Homo sapiens: one gene and its partners. Changing the gene in region 4 together with the main gene of any one other region gives a genetic interaction. Each region holds a gene or a part of one and is shown on either strand. Other genes may lie near its edges.

Evidence for each region. Genes that interact genetically often act in the same process or in processes that back each other up.
Region 1: changes in NPEPPS (region 4) and CASK together harm fitness less than expected from each alone (positive genetic interaction), as found in Homo sapiens cells (one large-scale study listed by BioGRID).
Region 2: changes in NPEPPS (region 4) and CIT together harm fitness more than expected from each alone (negative genetic interaction), as found in Homo sapiens cells (one large-scale study listed by BioGRID).
Region 3: changes in NPEPPS (region 4) and GRM2 together harm fitness more than expected from each alone (negative genetic interaction), as found in Homo sapiens cells (one large-scale study listed by BioGRID).

Annotation. Positions count from the first base shown.
Region 1 is NC_000023.11:41,548,588-41,553,643, forward strand, and holds part of CASK (peripheral plasma membrane protein CASK), read right to left. Parts: intron 1-5,056. UniProt on the Homo sapiens protein: Multidomain scaffolding Mg(2+)-independent protein kinase that catalyzes the phosphotransfer from ATP to proteins such as NRXN1, and plays a role in synaptic transmembrane protein anchoring and ion channel trafficking.
Region 2 is NC_000012.12:119,715,854-119,720,909, reverse strand, and holds part of CIT (citron Rho-interacting kinase), read left to right. Parts: intron 1-324; coding exon 325-432; intron 433-2,048; coding exon 2,049-2,211; intron 2,212-2,500; coding exon 2,501-2,665; intron 2,666-5,056. UniProt on the Homo sapiens protein: Plays a role in cytokinesis. Required for KIF14 localization to the central spindle and midbody. Putative RHO/RAC effector that binds to the GTP-bound forms of RHO and RAC1. It probably binds p21 with a tighter specificity in vivo.
Region 3 is NC_000003.12:51,705,299-51,710,834, reverse strand, and holds the start of GRM2 (metabotropic glutamate receptor 2 isoform a precursor), read right to left. Parts: upstream 3,768-5,536; 5' UTR 3,668-3,767; exon of another isoform or gene 1,988-3,667; 5' UTR 1,852-1,987; coding exon 1,402-1,851; intron 137-1,401; exon of another isoform or gene 1-136. UniProt on the Homo sapiens protein: Dimeric G protein-coupled receptor which is activated by the excitatory neurotransmitter L-glutamate. Plays critical roles in modulating synaptic transmission and neuronal excitability.
Region 4 is NC_000017.11:47,590,108-47,595,163, reverse strand, and holds part of NPEPPS (puromycin-sensitive aminopeptidase), read right to left. Parts: intron 4,448-5,056; coding exon 4,283-4,447; intron 3,261-4,282; exon of another isoform or gene 3,209-3,260; coding exon 3,104-3,208; intron 2,680-3,103; coding exon 2,619-2,679; intron 1-2,618. UniProt on the Homo sapiens protein: Aminopeptidase with broad substrate specificity for several peptides. Involved in proteolytic events essential for cell growth and viability. May act as regulator of neuropeptide activity.

The DNA of each region.
Region 1 (5,056 bases), on a different chromosome or scaffold from region 4:
AAAGTCCATCTCCATATATTACCCACGTGGCATACAGAGGAGGCTGATAAAGGCTTGCTTTGGGGATTCTTTTGGTGCAAGTCAATATGTGCTATTAGTCAGAACTAAAAGGCATAGAATCTTTGGAAACAAACAGAATTGAGGAATTTTTTGACAGGTTAAGAGACAAAATCGTGTGACCTTGTGAAGCTTATGTTACAATGTAGAGAGTATCTTATAATAAATGTTCTTAAGCTTAAAACAAAAATACAGGTTCCCAGGAAAAAATTGTGGCATAGTCTCATGTGGTGTGATGACAGAGGAATGAAATTGATTTTTACCAGACACTGCAGAAATAAACATTAGCTCTTTTAGCTCAGTAAGTGCACAGAAACCGTGTTAGGGTTAAGGTCAACCTGGAAGGAAATTTCAAACACATGCCTACCAATTTATTGATGGCTTAGATCAGGATCTTGTAGGCAAGGCAAGGGGAGGGATGACAGAGTCCGGGAGCTAAAATATATTGAAGGGCTAAATTGATGTGCCTAGAGTAAGGCATTTGGGTCCGAAAAAACTGATTTCTCATCTAGAAAATGTGAAGAATGTGACTTGGTAGCAATATATTTGATCAAAGTTTTGGGGGTCTGGCTGATACAATTGTTTCAAATCTTTCTTGTTAGTATTGGATGCCCACTGACATCCCAGAGGCCAATTCAGTTTCCAAGCAAAGGAAAATTGATCTTTCTCTTCTGCCAGGAATAGCTTCCTATACCCCCAAAGTCCTATTCAGGTCTTGGGGTACACACTGCCCAGTGGGCCTCTTTCTTATCATCTCAGTTAGAATCCTTTTCTCCCTCTATATATTTTGCAACTTTAACAGTTCAGTTTTTTGGCAATATATTGAACATATTTAAAGTATACAAATTTATCAGTTTTGATATCTGTAAACATCCCATGAAACTATCACTACAATCAAGAAAAACATATTCTTAGCCAGGTGTGGTAGCTCACACAGGTAATCCCAACACTTTAGGAGGTTGAGGCGGGCAGATCACCTGAGGTCAGGAGTTCGAGACCAGCCTGGCCAACATAGTGAGATCTCATCTCTATCGAAAATTTAAAAATTAGTTGGGCGTGGTGGCGGGCGCCTGTAATCCCAGCTACTTGGGAGGCTGAGATAGGGGGATTGCTTGAATCCAGGAGTTCCAGGCTGCAAGGAGCCAAGATTGCACCACGGCACTCCAGCCTGGGAGACAGAGAGGGACCTTGACTTTAGAAGAATAAAAATAAAAAATAAAAAATAAAAATGGCTGGGTGCTGCGGTGGCTCACACCTGTAATCCTAGCACTTTGGGAGGCTGAGGCAGGCAGATCACTTGAGGTCAGGAGCTTGAGACCAGCCTGGCCAACCTGGTGAAACCCTGTCTCTACTAAAAACACAAAAAATTAGCCAGGCGTGGTGGCAGGCGCCTGTAATCCCAGCTACTCGGGAGGCTGAGGCAGGAGGATCACTTGAACCGGGGAGGCAGAGGTTGCAGTGAGCTGAGATTGCGCCACTGCACTCCAGCCTGGGTGACAGGGCGAGACTCCGTCTCCAAAAAAAGAAAAACATATTCATTACCTCCAGAATTTCCTCATGCCCCTCTGTAATTCCTCCCTCCCTCCACCCCCATCTTGCATTTTCCAGAAGTTTATGTAAATGGAATCATATAGCGTGTTCTCTTTTTTGCCTGGCTTCTTTCACTCAGCATAATGATCTTGTGTTTCATCCATACTGCTGCATATATCAATAGTTTGATCCTTTTTATTGCTGAGTGGCATTCCATTGTATGGCTATATCACAATTTATTGATCTATTTACCCACTGATGAAACTTCAAAAAAATGTTAGCCATTCTAATAGGTGTGACCACTGAGATTCTAATTTTGTTACTGCATGTTTCCCCCTGGATGTTCCTCTGGTTCTTTTTAAAATCTGCTATGTCATTAACATTTTTTTTCTGCTCTCTGAAGATATTTTACAAGCTTATTATTGATTTTTAAAAACCTGGGCTAGGCGTGGTAGCTCACACTTGTAATCCCAGCACTTTGGGAGGCTAAGGTGGAAGGATCACTTGAGCCTAGGAGTTGGAGATCAGCCTGGGCAACATAGTGAGACCTCATCTCTACAAAAAAAAAAAAAAGAAAAAGAAAAAAATTAGCTGGGTGTGGTGGTGCACGCCTGTTGTCCCAGCTACTGGGAAGGCTGAGGTGGGTGGATTGCTTGGGTCCAGGAGGTCGAGGCTGCAGTGAGCCATGATCATGCCATTGCACTCCAGCCTGGGCGAGAGCACAATACCTTGTCTCAAAAACAAACGAACCAACTTCGTAAGCTTATTTTTAAAATCTTTGTCTCTTAATTCCAATATATGCAGTAGGTTTGGGTTTGTTTCTACTATCTGTCATTTCTGTTGGGTCTTACTTGTTTCCTTGTGTGCCTGATAATTTTGACTTGCTGGCTACTGCCCTGGAAAAAGTTTATGTCGGGCGGATAGGATGAAGTTAGTGGGGGTTAGGATAAAAGTGTTTGCCTTCAGAGACTTTCTGTTTATACCATACATCTGAAACTATTAGTAAAGAAAGGGGAAACTTCAAATCAAGTACATGGCTTCAGCTCCCCTGGCTGCCCCAGGCTGTGTGTACCTGGGTGCAAATCCATTCAAGGTGGACTGGTGGCCACAATTTGGAAGTTTGTTCCCAATTTCCTCATCTTTTGCTTTGCTCAGTGACAAGGCAGCTTTCTCTATAGTCCTCCGGTGTTGAAGGGAAATAAGGGTATGCTTATCTGTTTCCTTTTAGCCTGGGGGGACTGCCTCTTGCACTCCTAACAATGAGGAGGGTCTTCTAACAGATTCCCCAACTTGTACTGGCCTTAGATCTTAACCTTGGTTCTCTGGCACAGAAGTGTTCAGTAATGACAAATGCCCTGTTTGCAAAATGGGCCACTTGGTAACTCTGATATTCCACTTATCATTCTTATTAAAGGCTTTCACATAAAAATTGGTCACTGAGGCCTGGTGTGGTGGCTCACACCTGTAATCCCAGCACTTTGGGAGGCCAAAGTGGGTGGATCACGAGGTCAGGAGTTCACGACCAGCCTGGCCAACATGGTGAAACCCTGTCTCTACTAAAAATATGTGGTGGCGGGTGCCTGTAATCCCAGCTACTCAGGAGGCTGAGGCAGGAGAATTGTTTGAACCCAGGAGGTAGAGGTTGCAGTGACCTGAGATCATGCCATTGCACTGCAGCCTGGGCCACAGGGCGAGACTCCGTCTCAAAAAAAAAAAAAAAAAAAAAAAAAATTGGTCACTGAGCTCCCCAGTACCTTTTTTTATTTCCCGGACACAGAGTCTCACTCTGTCGTCCAGGCTAGAGTGCAGTGGCGCGATCACGGCTCACTGCAACTTCCACTTCTCGGGCTCAAGCAATTCTCCTGCCTCAGCCTCCCAAGTAGCTGGGATTATAGGTGCCTGCCATCACACCTGGCTAATTTTTTTTTTTTTTTTTATTTCAAGTAGAGACAGGGTTTTACCATGTTGGTCAGGCTAGCTTCGAACTCCTGACCTCAAGTGATCTGCCCACCTCGGCGTCCCAGAGTGCTAGGATTACAGGTGTGAGCCACCATGCCTGGCCCCTGATACCTTTTCAGCTATTCAGTGCTTTCAAGGTCATTTGAAAAACATATTTTCTGCGGCACTTTTCATTTTTTTTCATCAGGAGGATTTATCCAAATAATCTCATCCACCATTACAGGAAATAGGAAGCAAATCTGCTTTTTGCACTGCCATCACTCAGGATTCCTCCAGAGGACTCAGAGTTCTAGAAATTGGTGAAACATTTATATAGATGATCTGACTAGGCAGAAGAGGTCTGGAATCTACACAATTATTTTCAATAAATGCCCATAATATATGGTAACATTAAAGAAGACATTCTGTAAAATGTAAATATCAGTAAGAATATAATGGCATCATCACGGCAACGACTTAAAGATTGCTTTCCTCCTGCTTATGCTTGAACTGTTTCTCGAAGATCAGACTGAAAGACAATGCCAGATGGAAGGCTGCTGCTTCTCCATTTGGGCCCACGTTTCCTTATGTATAAAATGATGGCATCTGAAGTCCTCATCAGCTCCAACATTCTAAATTTAATACTATTTTTTGGGGAAACATGGGATAGCTGAAAGAGGCGATCAAGCAAAAGAGATTAACTGAGAAATCTCTTAACTAGTGAGAAAAATAGATAAAAGCAGGTAGAAATTTCTATGGACTCAATGTCTTTGGTCTCTTTTAGCTGGGTTCAAGTATTTTAGGAGGAACTGGCAGGATGCTTAATGGCTGTTATTTTTTGCCACATGAAACAAAACTCAGACATTATCTCTTTTGTGCTAGAAATAATCTGGTATATTGCCCAAGTACCAACAAAGGTAAAACCATCAATATTTTCCAAAAGACAGTTCAACTAAGGAAACGGTAACAATAATAGCAGAAATAGATTTTATCAAAATATACAGTGATCTGTGACTCCTTTTCTCTCAGTTAAAAACAGTGCCTAAAACCCCTAACTTTAGCCTGCTTTTAGGGCTTAAACTTTCTAGCAGAAAAGGTATTTTTAAAGGACTGGCAAGGTAAAGAACAAAGCTTCTGACTACCTCCTTCTAACAGTGAAATACATTTTATCTTCAAATACTCTGAGTGACACTGAAGCACTGCACCTACATTTTTTGCTGGTGGTGGGAATGGGATGGGCATGAAAGCATGTAGAAGGGCAAGGAGAACGTACATTTTTTTAATGCCATTCTAAAACAATTATAACAGCATATAGGAGTGGAGGGCTCTGCTGTGAGACCATGACTTGGCTCAGGGCTGCTCATCCAATCTCTTTCCAGACCTTCCTTTCTTTTTGTGTAAAATGAAGCCCTGACTCTGCAACTAGGATCTCACTAGATACTGAAGATATAGAATTCTTGGATGACTAATTTAAATTTTGTTTGGCTCGTAAAGGAAGGAATATATCAAACAGGTTTTACACTCTAAAATA
Region 2 (5,056 bases), on a different chromosome or scaffold from region 4:
TTTGTGCTGCATATTGTGTGTATTTTCCCCAAGATTTTATTTTCAAAGATTGCAAACATTCAGAGAAGTTGGAAGATTTCTATAGTGACCATGACCTACAAGGAACCTGTTGCTATTTTTACTTTTTCACATATTTATCTATAAATATATCTTTTTTCTCTTTTGCAGTAAAACTGGACTAAATACATACTGACTCAGTACTGTTTGTGTTGGATTTTCATATATTAGTGTCCTAACAACTTCACTTTTTAGTTTCTTAAAGTACCAACTTTAAAAGTATACTTCTGTCTGGATTTGAGGTTAGTTTGTTTTCTTGAATTTTAGGTTCTCTATTCTCATGAAAAGGTGAAAATGGAAGGCACTATTTCTCAACAAACCAAACTCATTGATTTTCTGCAAGCCAAAATGGACCAACCTGCTAAAAAGAAAAAGGTGAGTCAAAGTGTTTGAAAAGTGGGAATTGTCAGTTTCACTCATCATTCATGGCTCAGTGGACACCACTGTGATATATGATCATAGGAACATAGAAGAAAACAAAGTATACTTTTTTTGTTGTTTTATTTTGGGTTGAAAAATAGATTTTGAGATAATTATAATAGGTCTTACTGAAAGATATCAGTGATCAAGTCTAACAAACTACTTTTTGTTTATGACCATTCAAATCATAGTATCTTTGTTAAAGAAGTAATCCCTCCCCAGCCCACACACATAGCAGTTGGGGCAGAGGGATGTATGCAGAGAGAAAGATTTATACCAAGTCATGCATACATGACTCTAGAGGGAGTTAGCAAGTCACAAGTATGGGGCTTCAGCAGTTCAGGTCTCTCGTACCACACTCCAGAAAGGACTTTAACAGTGATCTAGTCCAGTCCTTTTGATCGGCTCACAAAGAGACTAGAACTCAGGGAGCTGGGGTGACCTGCCTGAAGTGTCTGACTGGACACTTCTCCCCTCTGCCAAGTACTGAACAACCCTTTTAGATTGCAGGAGACAAATTACAAACTAGGGGCAGGGTTATACATAGTGCACATGAGAAGATTGTTTTTCATAAGCCTGATCTATACATGCTTTCCCAAACCACTAAAGCCTTCATACTAGGTTTGGCCAGGTGTTCTCAGTTCCAGAAAAGTCTTGAAGAAGCTTGCAGTTTCCTTCCAAATGCAGAAGCATACCATAGCAGCAGTGGCAGTGGTTTTGCAGGAGAGGCCTTGATGACTTGGAATACCTAGGAGGAAGGAGTGGAGGGCTGAAGTTGACAGTTGTCTCAATATTTCCGGTGCCATCTTCGCTGTAAGGGCATGAGCACAACATTCAGAGGCCGCCTCCCACTAGACGTTGGCTGCACGGGAAGGATTTTCTTGCATGCTGCGTGACTGTATATGGTTGTTATGCTTATGATATTTAATCTTTTTTATTTTAGCAGTGAACTGTTACCTGGTTATGTCACTTGATTTAGTTAGGGTGTTTCCATTTGTTATTTTTTTTAGTTACCTTTTTTTTAAGTTGCATTATTCTGTTTTCCTTTTTTTTCCATGTATAGTAAATATTTTCATTTGCATTTTTTTTTGAGTAAGCCCCTTGTTTTGACCTCATTTTAGCATTCCTTTTAAAATTTTGCTTCCTTTTACAAAACACTCATCTCTGTGTCTTGTAACTGAGCATCATGAGACATATTCCAAGGCAAGAGTGACCTCTGAACCATCTCTCCTGACTCCATACTCCATACTCTCCTGATTCCATTTTTTGAATGGGAAAGACTCAGGACATGACTCTCCTGTCTTGGCAATGCTAGAGGAAGAGGTGGTGGCCATTCAAGCATCTTTAATCCTCTTGGTGAAAACTTCCGCACCCCTATTTTTTTCAGCCGGCTGGAACGGGCTGTGGCTCAGCCTACCCTTCCCCCCCTTCACATGCCATTTTTACTAAATACACTTACAGTGAGTATGCTCCTGGCTTTTGTGGTTTGCTCCTCCCGAGTCAGATTTCCTTTAGCTAGTTTCAAGTGCCAGTTTCCAGGAGTTAGGAGATATCTCTGTTTCCATTGCTAGGGTTTATTTAGTCGACGGAAAGAGGACCCTGCTTTACCCACACAGGTTCCTCTGCAGTACAATGAGCTGAAGCTGGCCCTGGAGAAGGAGAAAGCTCGCTGTGCAGAGCTAGAGGAAGCCCTTCAGAAGACCCGCATCGAGCTCCGGTCCGCCCGGGAGGAAGGTAGGGGCTCACTCTCTCCAAAATGCTCAAGGATGTGGAAAAGGCAGAGGATTGATCTCAGTGAGATCAGCCAAGACTAACTAGCTCAGTGTCTTCGTTTATGGCCCATACGCTTTCAGACCAGACATCCCATGTCTGAAAAACGTATGGCCCCTGTGCATTGCCAAGTTGATGTGACGCATATTCTTTTGGTCTTGGGTCCTTGAAAGATAGCCCAGGGACATTCGGCTTAGTTTGGTCCTCTAGGCGACCCAGCTAACCAAAAGGCATTGTCCTGGTCTCTCTGCAGCTGCCCACCGCAAAGCAACGGACCACCCACACCCATCCACGCCAGCCACCGCGAGGCAGCAGATCGCCATGTCCGCCATCGTGCGGTCGCCAGAGCACCAGCCCAGTGCCATGAGCCTGCTGGCCCCGCCATCCAGCCGCAGAAAGGAGTCTTCAACTCCAGAGGGTACGTTGGAGTTGTATGGAAATTTCTTTTAGTCGACTAAGACATGTGGGCATATGGTAAAAATTACAAGTAATACTAGGGGTTAAAGATTAAAAAGTCAGTCTTGGCCAGGCACGGTGGCTCACACCTGTAACCCCAGCACTTTGGGAGGCCGAGGTGGGCGGATCACCTGAAGTTGGGAGCTCAAGACCAGCCTGACCAACATGGAGAAACCCCGTCTCTACTAAAAATGCAAAATTAGCTGGGCATGGTAGTGTATGCCTGTAATCCTAGCTACTCGGGAGGCTGAGGCAGGAGAATTGCTTGAATCCGGGAGGCGGAGGTTGCGGTAGCCGAGATTGCGCCATTGCACTCCAGCCTGGGCAACAAGAGGGAAACTCCATCTCAAAAAAAAAAAAAAAAAAAAGAAAGAAGTCAGTCTCCTGGCTCCCCATCCTCAGTGTTGGTTCATATATGTGACCACATGTCTATACCATTCATGTATCTTACATTGTGTGATTATATTTAAAGAATATGAGAAAATAGGCTGGGCATGGTGGCTCACGCCAGTAATCCCAGCACTTTGGGATGCTGAGGCAGGCGGATCACCTGAGGTCAGGAGTTTGAGACCAGCCTGGCCAACATGGTGAAACCTCGTTTCTACTAAAAATACAAAAATTAGCTGGGTGTGGTAGCATTCTCCTGAAGTCCCAGCTACTTGGGAGGCTAAGGCAGTAGAATCATTTGAACCCAGGAGGTGGAGGTTGCAGTGAGCCGAGATCACCCCACTGCACTCCAGCCTGGGTGATAAAGTGAGATTCCATCTCAAAAAAAAAAAAAAAAAAAGAAAAGAAAAGAAAAAAGAATATGAAAAAATAAGCACATCTCTCTCTCAGGCCTTTTTTCTTTTATAAATATTATAGTGGTGGCTCACGCCTGTAATCCCAGCACTTTGGGAGGCTGAGGTGGGCGGATCACCTGAGGTTGGGAGTTCGAGACTAGCCTGACCAACATGGAGAAACCCTGTCTCTACTAAAAATACAAAATTAGCCGGGTGTGGTGGTGCATGCCTGTAATCCCAGTTACCTGGGAGGCTGAGGCAGGAGAACTGTTTGAACCTGGGAGGCAGAGGTTGCAGTGAGCCAAGATAAAGCCATTGCATTCCAGTCTGGGCAACAAGACTGAAACTCTGTCTCAAAAACAAAAACAAGAAAACGTAAGCTTATCTTTCAGGCCTTTTTTCTCTTATAAATATCATAGCACACTACAGTATACACTGCAAGACACCTTCGTTTCATTAAAGTGCTATCTTAGAGGTTTCACATTAGTACATAAGGACCTACCCCATTCTTTCAGAGAACCACACAGTATTCCGTGGTGTGAGCATGCAATTCACCTGTTAAGCCAGGCTCCTGTTGATGGCCATTTAGGTTGTTTCCAATCCCCTGTTACTGTAAACACCTTGCAGAGGACATCCTGTGCCTCTGTGGGTGTTGTGCCTGGAGAAATTCCTGGGAAATGAATCACTGGGTTAAAGGTCATGTACATTTTGAGTGCTGGTAGTTTGTGCCAATGTTTATTTCTACCAACAGTGTGAGGAGTTTTCTTGCTGGTCTCAAATGTACTCCATTTACCTAGAGATTAAAAGGACTTAAGAAAAGGCCAAGGAAGCTGTTTGGAATGTCTTAGGAACACTAGGGTAGAGCTGTGGTTTAGCAATCATGGCATTGCAATCAAACCTGTTTTGGTTGTAAACCAGATGGTGTTTTCTTGTTGCTGTTGTTTTTCTTTAGCCTGAAGTCATTTTCTTCCTCCTGTGTTTATATAACTCCTTGAATCAAAGAGCTTTACTTTTTTTTTTTTTTTTTTTTTTTTTTTTTTTTTTTTGAGACAGAGTCTCGCTCTGTCGCCCAGGCTTGGAGAGCAGTGGTGTGATCTTGGCTCACTGCAACCTCTGCCTCCCAGGCTCAAGCGATTCTCATGCCTCAGCTTCCTGAGTAGCTGGGATTATAGGCATGCGCCACCATGCCTGGCTAATATTTTTATTTTTAGTAGAGATAGGGTTTCACCATGTTGGCCAGGCTGGTCTTGAACTCCTGACCTCAAGCGATCCACTTGCCTTGGCCTCCCAGAGTGCTGGCATTACAGGTTTGAGCCACTGTGCCCAGCCCAAGAGCTTTACTTTTAAACTCATTAAAATGGTGATGACAAGATAGAGGAAAGCATTGCTTCTGGCTGTGGTGTCCACTGAAATGTCCCTGAATAGTGATAGTACTACAGTATATTGCTCCTTTGTGTATACTGCACCACACAGTTTCAAAGTGCATTCCTGTTATTTATTCCTTGCACCTTTCCAAGAAAGGAAGGGGGGTGATGTTGTAAGGAGAGCCTACCGTATAGTCAGTCAATCTC
Region 3 (5,536 bases), on a different chromosome or scaffold from region 4:
GAGGATCGCAGCTGGGCACAGCCCTGGGAGCAGCAGAGGGGTGTCAGCAGGGCCAGCAGCCTCTGCTGAAGCTGAGCCACAGAGCACCCTCTGCTGGTCCCTGTGGGAGAGTAGGAGGCTGAGGGCAGGGGAGCTGCCTCCCCACCCTTCCCACCCCCTCAAATCCTGTGCCCCCTGAAGACTCTCTGGTGCCCTCCCCCGACACATATTCTGTTTATCTTCCTTCTGACTCCCCTACCCTGATTCTCTCCTCTGGCCACTCCTGGCTTCTATCTGGCCACCCCTCTCCAATCCAGGCAGAGATGATCTGACAAGTCAGGAGCCCCTTGGCCGAGAGCCGATTTCACAGTTCCCCTCCACCACTGCCTTGAATGTGGCCCACCTCTCTCTGAGCCTTCGTTTCCTCATCTATAAAATGGGTTAAAAATAATAGCAGCTAATATCAACGGTGCCCTTATGACTTGCCGGGCCCCTGATACATACTATGCATCTATCAACTCATTAAATTTCCATGGCAAACCTCAAAGTAGAAAGTGTTGTGGGCCGGGCACAGTGGCTCATGCCTATAATCCCAGCACTTTGGGAGGCCGAGGCGGGTGGATCACCTGAAGTCGGGAGTTTGAGACCAGCCTGACCAACGTGGTGAGGTCAGGCTCGTCTCTACTAAAAATACAAAAATTAGCCGGGCATGGTGGCAGGCGCCTGTAATCCCAGCTACTTGGGAGGCTGAGGCAGGAGAATCACTTAAACCCGGGAGGCAGAGATTGCAGTGGGCTGAGATCTCACCACTGCACTCCAGCCTGGGAGACAGAGCGATATCCTGTCTCAAAAAAGAAAAAAAAAAAAAGTGTTGTGAATCCAATTTTATAAGGAAGAAGCTGTGACACAGAAAAGAGAAATAACGTGCCATGGTCATGCAGTTAGTAAGTGGGAGACCTGACTATTAAGCCCCTCAGGGTTAACATCAAGGGTGAGGGTGTGTGTGTGTGTGAGGGTGTGTGTGTCTGGGTGTGTGTGTGGGTGTGGGGGTGGGTGTGGGGTGTGTGTGGGTGTGTGGGGTGCGTGTGTGTGGGTGTGTTGGGTGTGTGTGGGTGTGTCGGGTGTGTGTGGGTGTGTGGGGGGCTGTGTGTGTGTGTGAGGGTGTGTGGGGTGTGTGTGTGTGTGTGAGGGTGTGTGTGTGTGTGGGAGTAATGAGAGTAAGATGTTCTCTTGCACAGTCTCTAAAAATCGACCACCATTATGTGACCAGGGCACTTTCTTAGCTTCTGTAAAAGCTACTGCAAGGAAGCTTCTAGTTTCCCTTCCAATTCACAGCAGCCCATGAGCCCCTTTTCAGCAGGAATTCTGGGTCACCACCTCCGGCCTCCCTCCCTAGCCCCCATTTGGGTGGCTTCCACGTACCTGGATGGAGACATCACTGTAGGAACCGCCAATAACACCAGTGATGGCAGTGGGAGCATCACCATGGGTCGCATAAGAGCCGTCGGGGCAGATGTGGCGTGAGCCATCAGCACCACGGCTGAGTGAGGCACGCACAAAGTCCAGTGCCTGCTCCAGCGCATGTGTGTCCTTGGAGCAACTGTCGAGGATGTGTGCACCCAGGCGCACGCCAGGCAGCAGGTGCGGGTCACGGTTGATGCGGTCCAGTGCAAAAAGCATGGCCTCCAGGCGCTGGATGCCACGGTGCTCATTGACAGGACCACAGTCCTCTGCTGGGCCGCCCTTCTGGTGCACTGGGAACAGCCCACCCAGCACCAAGTCTCCCTCCAGGGTCAGCACCTTCTTGGCTGGGCCCTCAGCCACAGCACCCCACAGCAGCAGCAGTGCCAGGAGCGCAAGCAGCGATCCCATGGCCCCAAAGGGGATGGATGGGTCCCGCAGACCTGGGTCTCCAGGGGATGAGATTAGAAGCAGCGAAGGCAAAGAGAGGAGGAAACAGGGACCAGGAAAGGACAGACAAGAAGAGAGATGCGAAGGGACCCAGCTCCTGCAGAGAGATAGAAAGACAGAAAAACAGACCAGGAAAAGTGGAACCTGAGAGCAGCTGCCCCTTCTGACTCTGCCTCCCCACGAGCCCCTTTCCTAGGTACTCAAAAGCCAGGGAGGGACAGGATGGTGTCATTAAGTAGGTTGAGAAGCTCCTGGGACTCCCCTGGACCTGTCTCTCAGCCCTGGCCTCAGCTTGGTGAGAGATGGGCCATATTCCCCTACCAAACTCAGCAGTGGGGAGAGATGCAAGCAGTGAAGTCCCAGGCAGAGGACAGGAGACCCCAGCCAATGCTGACCCCTCTGTAATTCAAAGGGTGTCCAAGAACAGCACAAACCTCCCAGGACCCCGAGGTCAATACCTTTGGAACAGACTATGTCACAGTCACAAACTCAGAGGTCCCCATCCTGAGCCTTGGATTTCCAGAGAGAAGGAACTGCTGTCTCAGGACCCACCAGGGAAGAGGAAGGGAAGCATCTCTAAGGGACAGTCTCCAACCCGTGGGGAGACTGGAGCCCATGTGAACACCCAAGGGTTCTAACCTTTGGTTCTTAAAAAGCCATCCCCACAGTTTGCTGACTGAGGAAGGAATAGAGACACTAAGCCCTGGGAATGAGACAGCAAGGTGGAATGGCTGGCCTCAGGGAGGGTACCCAAGTGGCTCAAGGTCCTAAGTCAACAGGGCAAGCAGATGTTCACGTATGTGTGTGTCAGGGTTGGGGGCTAGAGTCTCCAAACAGTGCTGAGGGTGAGAGTGCGGGACTCTCTAGCTCTGTGTAGAACACTGCTTGAGATTTTGTGCCTCTGTTTTCTCTTCACTCCCGACCCAGCAGAGAAAGTCACCATTTCCAATCTCCCCATCCTCAGCTTCAGGGCCCTGCCCACCCTAGCCATGGCCCTCAGAGACCCCCTCCCTGTCTCTTCCCCACTGCGTCCAATCATTTGTACCCCAGTTGCCTTCCCAAACACACACCCCACAAAGGCTCTCACAATCACACAGGCTTGGAAAGGCTGGGAGAGGGACATACCTCTTTCCTCAGAACAGGAAAGGAAACTGAGTTTGAAGAAGGGCAGCAACTAACTCAAGGACCCCATGTGCTGGCCACGGAGGCTGAGCCTCTTCATTTTGCCCCCTCAGCTCCCCAGGGCAGGGGCACTGGGCTCCTCTGGGGATCAGGAAAGCAGCAGCTTACCCAGGCAAGCGAGGGAGAAGCAGGGAGGAAGACCAGCACAGATGGAGACAGGGACCCAGATGGGGGCTGAAGCCAAAACTGGTCAAGTCGCAAGTCTCCCAGAGGGGAGGCCCAGACGGAAGCTCAGAGGCAGGAAGGGGACAGAAACCCGGAGTCAGACAGCCAGGAGCCTGGGCCACAAAATCTGGGCAGGGAGCGAGCAAGCCTGAGAGGTTGAGACAAAGACGGAGGCACAGACAGAAAGAAGGACCAGAGGACGCTGGAGCAGGAGGAACGGGGGAGTGCGATGTGGGGCGTGCGTTTTCTGGAGAAGAAAGGCGGGACGCCCGGGGCTGTCTTCCCGCTTCCCGGAGCTCTCAGGGAACGCTGTCTGGACACAGCAGCGCGGGCGCCCCACAACTTGAGGGCCCGCAGGACCCTGGGACGTGAGGTAAGGGCCAAAAAGGTCGGCAGCGGCAGCGGCACCACCACCACCGGCTCACCCTACCTGGCGCGCTGGCTCTGGCGCGGAGAGAATCGGAGTGGAGCGGGGGGCGCGAGGCTCCGGCTCCCGCTCGCTCGCTCGCTGGCTCGCTGGCTCTGCGCTCTCCGCCCGCCCGCTCGCCCCGCCGCTTTCAATCGCGGCCCGCCCCGCCCCGCCCCCGGCCCCGGCCCGCCCCCAGCCCCTCCTCCGTTCCTCCAGACGCCAGGTCTCCTGCTCCCAACCCAGCCTCCGCCTCCTCTGGACACTCCGCGCTCCAGCTTTTCTGGGGACCTCAGGGCCTGGAGCTGTCCGCCTCGTGGTGCTGAATCCCCGAGCGCTCTCGCTCTGCGCTGGAGCGGGTGCTTCGTGGCCCACTCCGCCCCATAGTCAGACTACCACCTAGAGAGCATAGGTGGGGGGCGGGGGGATGCCACGGGGCACGGGGTGGGGAAGGTCACTGCGCCCCGACAGGTGCCCATAGTGCTACTGCAGAGTGGAGGAGCTGGCCTTAGTGCAAGGGGTGCCTCTGGGGGATAGGTAAAGGGGCGCGTGGGAGACGGGTGGAGTCTATTCTCCCCACTCAGCGATTTCAGCTGGGTCCACATCCCAGGCCTGAGTTGGAGGCATGTGTCCTCTGCCACTTTTGAGACCTGGAGCCAGAGTCACTATGAGGAAAAGATTGGGGGAAGGGAGAGGTCAGAGGAGAATGGGGCCTCCCCTTCCTTCCTGCAGATGCCCTTTAAACCTGCCACCCACTCCCATGTAAAAAGGGTATTTAAGCAAGGAGAGAGCAACCTGCAGGAAGGGCTGCAGAACCAAGTACTAGGGTCAACCCTGAGGGAGTGTTAGGGATGGCAGGGGCATCTGGGAGGGGAGGGGCCTAGGGAAAGGCTTCTGGAACTGGCTGCTGCGTAGGAGGGAGTGAGAGCTGGAGCCCAAGCAGAGGGAGGACAGCTCTGAGAAGATTCTCTTGACTCTTCCCTCCCACAGCAGGATGGGGAAGGACGCCCCTGGGTAGAGGGTAGTGGATAAGCTGTAGTGCCAGACTGTGCTGAAGGAATGGGGATTAGAGAGCCTGTGCTATCTGCCCCTAACATGTGCACACACTAACAAGTGCCAAGGGGCATGGCATCCCTACACACATTCCCGACACTGCCCTTTCTTCCACAGGTGTCAGTGGAAGCAAGGCCAGCTCAGATACATGCTAATGAACATGCCAAGCCCAGACCCCTCAGGCACACACACCCACATGTGCGTGTGGCAGTCCGTAGGGGTGCGGGGGTGATCACCAAGGACGAGCTTTTTCCCTGGACACAGAAACCTGATGTCCTGCTGCTGTGGAAAGAATACAGCTTTGAAACGAAACAGACACATAAAACCCAAACAAACACAAGCCCCATCACTAACAGGAGACAAGGTGGCAGTGGGAGACAGACATGCTGTCTTCCACCTCCAACTCTGCCACCGGCTGCTCTCACCCTCTCTGGCTGCCTCAGAGCAACAGCTCCCTGGGGTAGGTGAGCAATGGGCCAGGCCTCTGGAGCAGAGGGGTTGACAGCAGGAGGGTGCTGAGGTGAGGAGTCACACACTCCTTCTAGCCACACTCCCAACCTGCTCAACAAGTCAGCCTCACAAAAGGCACAGGGCTGTAAACACAGATATGGCTGTGTACAGCATCAGCCAGAAAAGCCCATGATGTGGCCTGCAGCAAACAAGCTGCACAGTCGCAGCACATGGACACACAGTTACACACAGCTAGGCAGCCACCACTCCCAGCTGTGTGCACACGGATGAGGACATACACTTAGCCTTACACAGTTGTAAATGTGGACATGGCCACATGCATAGTACACATAAACATGCAACCACACACAGCTATACTTGTAGACAGCC
Region 4 (5,056 bases):
AGGTCAGGAGTTCGAAACCAGCCTGGCCAACATGGTGAAACCCTGTCTCTACTAAAAATACAAAAATTAGCTGGGCATGGTGGCACACACCTGTAATCCCAGCTACTTGGGAGGCTGAGACAGGAGAATCACTTGAACCCAGGAGGCGGAGGTTGCAACGAAGCCAAGACTGCACCACTGCACTCCAGCCTGGGCGACAGAGCAAGACCCTGTCTTTAAAAAAAATAAAATAGGCCAGGCGCGGTGGCTCACGCCTGTAATCCCAGCACTTTGGGAGGCAGAGGCGGGCGGATCATGAGGTCAGGAGATCGAGACCATCCTGGCTAACACAGTGAAACCCTGTCTCTACTAAAAATACAAAAAATTAGCCGGGCGTGGTGGCGGGCGCCTGTAGTCCCAGCTACTCGGGAGGCTGAGGCAGGAGAATGGCCTGAACCCGGGAGGTGGAGCTTGCAGTGAGCCGAGATCGCGCCACTGCACTCCAGCCTGGGCGACAGAGCGAGACTCCGTCTCAAAAAATAACATAACATAACATAACATAACATAACATAACATAACATAACATAACATAAAATAAAATACAAAATTAGCCGGCCGTGGTGGCACATGCCTGTAATCCCAGCTACTCAGGAGGCTGAGGCAGGAGAATCACTTGAACCCGGGAGGCGGAGGTTGTGGTGAGCCAAGACTGCACCATTGCACTCCAGCCTGGGCAACAAGAGCGAAACTCTGTCTCAAAAAAAAAAAAAAAGAATTGAAAAGAATCAAAAAGTTAAAAAAATTAAAAAGTAAATTTAAAATGTTACAGTAAGCTAAGGTTAATTTATTATTCAAGAAAGAAAAATTATTTTTATAAATTCAGTGTAGCCTAAGTGTAAAGTATTTATAATATCTATAGTAGTGTATAGTAATGTCTTAGGCCTTCATATTCACTCACCACTCACTCAACTAGAACAACCTCTATAAGTTGTCCTATAAGCTGCATTCAGGTGTAGCACCTTATTTTCTTTTGAGACCGCGTTTCGCTGTTGCCCAGGCTGGAGTGCAGTGGCCCAATCACAGCTCACTGCAGCTTTGACCTCCCAGGCTCAAGTGATCCTCCTACCTCAGCCTCCCAAGTAGCTGGGACTACAGGCACATGCCACCACACCCAGCTAATTTTTGTACTTTTTATAGAAGCGAGGTTTTGGCATGGTGCCCAGGCTGGTCTCAAACTCCTGGACTCAAGCAGTCCACCTGCCCCAGCCTCCCAAAGTGCTGGGATTATAGGCATATCAGCCAGCTGGTGGAGCATCTTTAATATCATATTTTTACTGTACCTTTTCTATATTTAGAAATGTTCAGGTATACAAATACCATTGTGTTATAATTGCCTATGGTATTCAGTACAGTAACATGCTGTACAGGTATTTTGTAGCCTAGCAGCAACAGGGTATATACCATGTAGGCTAGGTGTACATAGCCTAGGACATACTGTGTAGGTTTCTGTAAGTACATTCTATGATGTTCACATATTGATGAAATTGCCTGACAACATATTTCTCAGAACATATCCCTGTTGTTAAGCAACACATGACTGTATTCCCTTTATTTTTTATTTTTTTCAGACAGGATCTTGTTCTGTTGCCCAGGCTGGAGTGCAGTGGTGCCATGATTGCTCACTGTAACCTCAAACTCCTGGGCTCAAGTGACCCTTCCCACTTCAGCCTCCTGAGTAGCTGGGACTACAGGCACATACCACCACACCCGGCTAATATTTTTGTATTTTTTGTAGAGGTGGGGTCTCGCTATGTTGCAAGCTGGTCTTGAACTGGGCTCAATCAGTCCGCACATCCTGGCCTCCCAAAGTGCTAGGATTACAGGCGTGAGCCACCACACCCGGCCCAGACTCTTTAAGTTGGCAAAATACTCAGTTATGGAAAGCAGAATGCTGGAGGATGACCAAAGGGATAACGAGTCCTGATTCATGTTGACCCTATGACTTACTGCAGGTTGAGTATCCCTTATCCAAAATGCTTGGGACCAGAAATGTTTTGAATTTCATATTTCTTTTGGATTTTGGAATATTTGCATTATACTTACTAGCTGAGCATCTATAATTGGAATATCCAAAATCTAAAATGTTCCAATGAGCATTTCCTTTGAGCATCATGTTGGCACTCAAAAAGTTTCAGATTTTGGGTGGGAATTGAACAATGAGAACACTTGAACACAGGGCGGGGAACATCACACACCAGGGCCTGTCATGGGGTAGGGGGCTGGGGGAGGGATAGCATTAGGAGAAATACCTAATGTAAATGACGAGTTAATGGGTGCAGCAAACCAACATGGCCCGCACATGTATACTGACGTAACAAACCTGCACATTGTGCACATGCACCCTAGAACTTTAATTAAAAAAAAGAAAGAAAGGAAAGAAAAAGTTTCAGATTCTGGAGCATTTCAAATTTCAGATTTTGAGATTAGAGATATTCAACCTGAACACAGCTTCAAATAAGGCTAATTTATTTATTACATGGATCCTGACCTTAAGTATTCAGAACAAAAATAAAATGTCCCAGCCTGGATAGAGTGACAATACTTTCTCTCCATTTCTATCTCAAGCTATTAGAGATTACCTGTGGCAGCATTCTTTTGTTGGAACTTGGTTAAATACATGTTCATTCCTTTCTTAAAGTCCTGAGAAAACACAATTTTTAAAATCCAGGGAAGTCAGATCTCAGAATTTATAGTATATTTGTATATCAGTAATCAAAAACAAATTTACTCAAATACTCAAGTATCAGATACACTGAAACACATATATCCTTCTGATGCCTACTGCCTTTTATTTAATAATGCGTACTCTATGCCTTCTATTCTTGCTCTTAAGTTTTGTAACAGCCTCCCATTTCCACTCCCAAACACACCTGCACATCACTCATCTAAGAGACCAGAGTAGTCAACTTCAAATAATTGAATTCTCATTCTTTTTGGTCATTAAAAAAAAATGACAAGCCAGAAACTATTTGGGAACTTAATCCAAATAAAGTGAGACTTTTTTTCATGCAAAACTCTTATGATTTCACCATAAAAGAATGAAATATTTAAAGTTTTTTTTTACCTTATCCCCAATGTAGTCATGCAGCATTCGGATGACAGATGCACCTTTGCTATATGATATAGCATCAAATATCTCATCAACCTCAGATGGATGGCCCACACTGACCTGGCAGACAGTGTGATTCAGGGTTATGACAGGAAGCAGATAGCCTGTAATACTGAATTACATAAAACGCTTTCTAGGAAAACCCTTCTAACTTACATTTTTCTGCCTTTAACTCACTCATAATGTATAACGATGGTCCTCAAAAAAATGTAGTAACTAATAATAATAAAGTTGAATAGAACATGATTCCTGTCATCCCTTAGAGCCTGGGTTCCAGTCCTGGCTTTGTTCTGCTGGGAAAGAAGCCACTATGGTTCTGTTTATTTTTGGGGTAGTTGCAGAGGAGTGATGAGGAAGATATGGAGGTGAAGAACATTAGATTTCTTGCACTAATTGTAATGAATTACAATTATATGGGAGCCTAATTAAATATGTTGAAGTAGCATTATAACTCTAGTTCTTTAGATACAAAATTTATATATATAAACTGAAGTAGGGATAGGCTAAGTCAAGAGAATTAAAGTATTCACAAAACAGACCCTGACAATAAAATATGTCCAGAATTTTCCTTGACATAAACAATGGAACCATAGTGTTACCCAATAGGTATGACTTCTCCCATACTATTCTTTTTCTTTTTTTTTGGCAGAGTTTTTTGCTCTTGTTGCCCAGGCTGGAGTGCAATGGCACGATCTCGGCTCACCGCAACCTCTGCCTCCCAGGTTCAAGTGATTCTCCTGCCTCAGCCTCCCGAGTAGCTGGGATTACAGGCATGCGCCACCGTGCCCAGCTAATTTTGTATTTTTAGTAAAGACGGGGTTTCTCCATATTGGTCAGGCTGGTCTCAAACTCCCGACCTCAGGTGATCCACCTGCCTCAGCCTCCCAAAATGCTAGGATTACAGGCATAAGCCACTGCGCCTGGCCAGACCAATTTTTTTTTACTGCCTACCTTAAAAAGAAATGTTAATTAGAACTTAGACTTACTAGCTTTTCAAGACTAGAAATATGAACCAGTAAAATCACCCATGCTATTTTCTCTTATTTTCAAAGTCCAAAGTATCTATGTAACAAATTACGTATTTCATTGTAAATGAGAGCAGTCATAGGCTAATGGTTAGAAAGTATGGCTCACTTCAATAGGATGGCTGTTATCTAAGGCGTCAAGCTCCTGGGCACGGGTGTAATCAGCAGAAACAAACTGAGTCCAAATATCATACTCTGGGAAGCAGTGGTCTACACACAGATATTCAATCCAGGATGCAAAACCTTCATTTAACCAAAGATGAGTCCACCATTCCTAAAAACAAAAGATGAAAATACTTAAAGAAAATGAAATGATTGTCATTCTACTAATCTAAAACACTCACATGTCCCTTCCACTATATTCCCAAACTCACAATTTAATGACCTAAAATTCAGTTCAAAACATTTGGCAAAGAACTCACATTTCTGAAAAAGAGAGAAGACTAAAAGAGATGTCAAGAAAGGCCAACTGGTGATATGAGAATTATATCTGAGGGTCATTTTCTTTTCCTTTCTTTTCTTTTTTTTTTTTTTGAGACAAAGTCTTGTTTTGTCACCAGGCTGGAGTGTTCACCAGTAGCTGGGATTACAGACATGTATCACTATGCCTGCCTAATTTTTGTATTTTTAGTAGAGAGGGGGTTTTGCCATGTTGGCCAGGCTGGTCTGGAACTTCTGAACTCAAGTGATCCACCTGCCTCGGCCTCCCAAAGTGCTAAGATTACAGGTGTGAGCCACCATGCCTGGGCTAAAGGATATTTTCAAAACATTGTAAATAACTTCTCCCGCAAACCCAGACAGGGTCTCATTCTGTTGCCCAGGCTGGAGTGGCAGGGGCACCATCGTAGCTTACTGCAGCCTTGAACTCCTGGGCTCAAGCAAT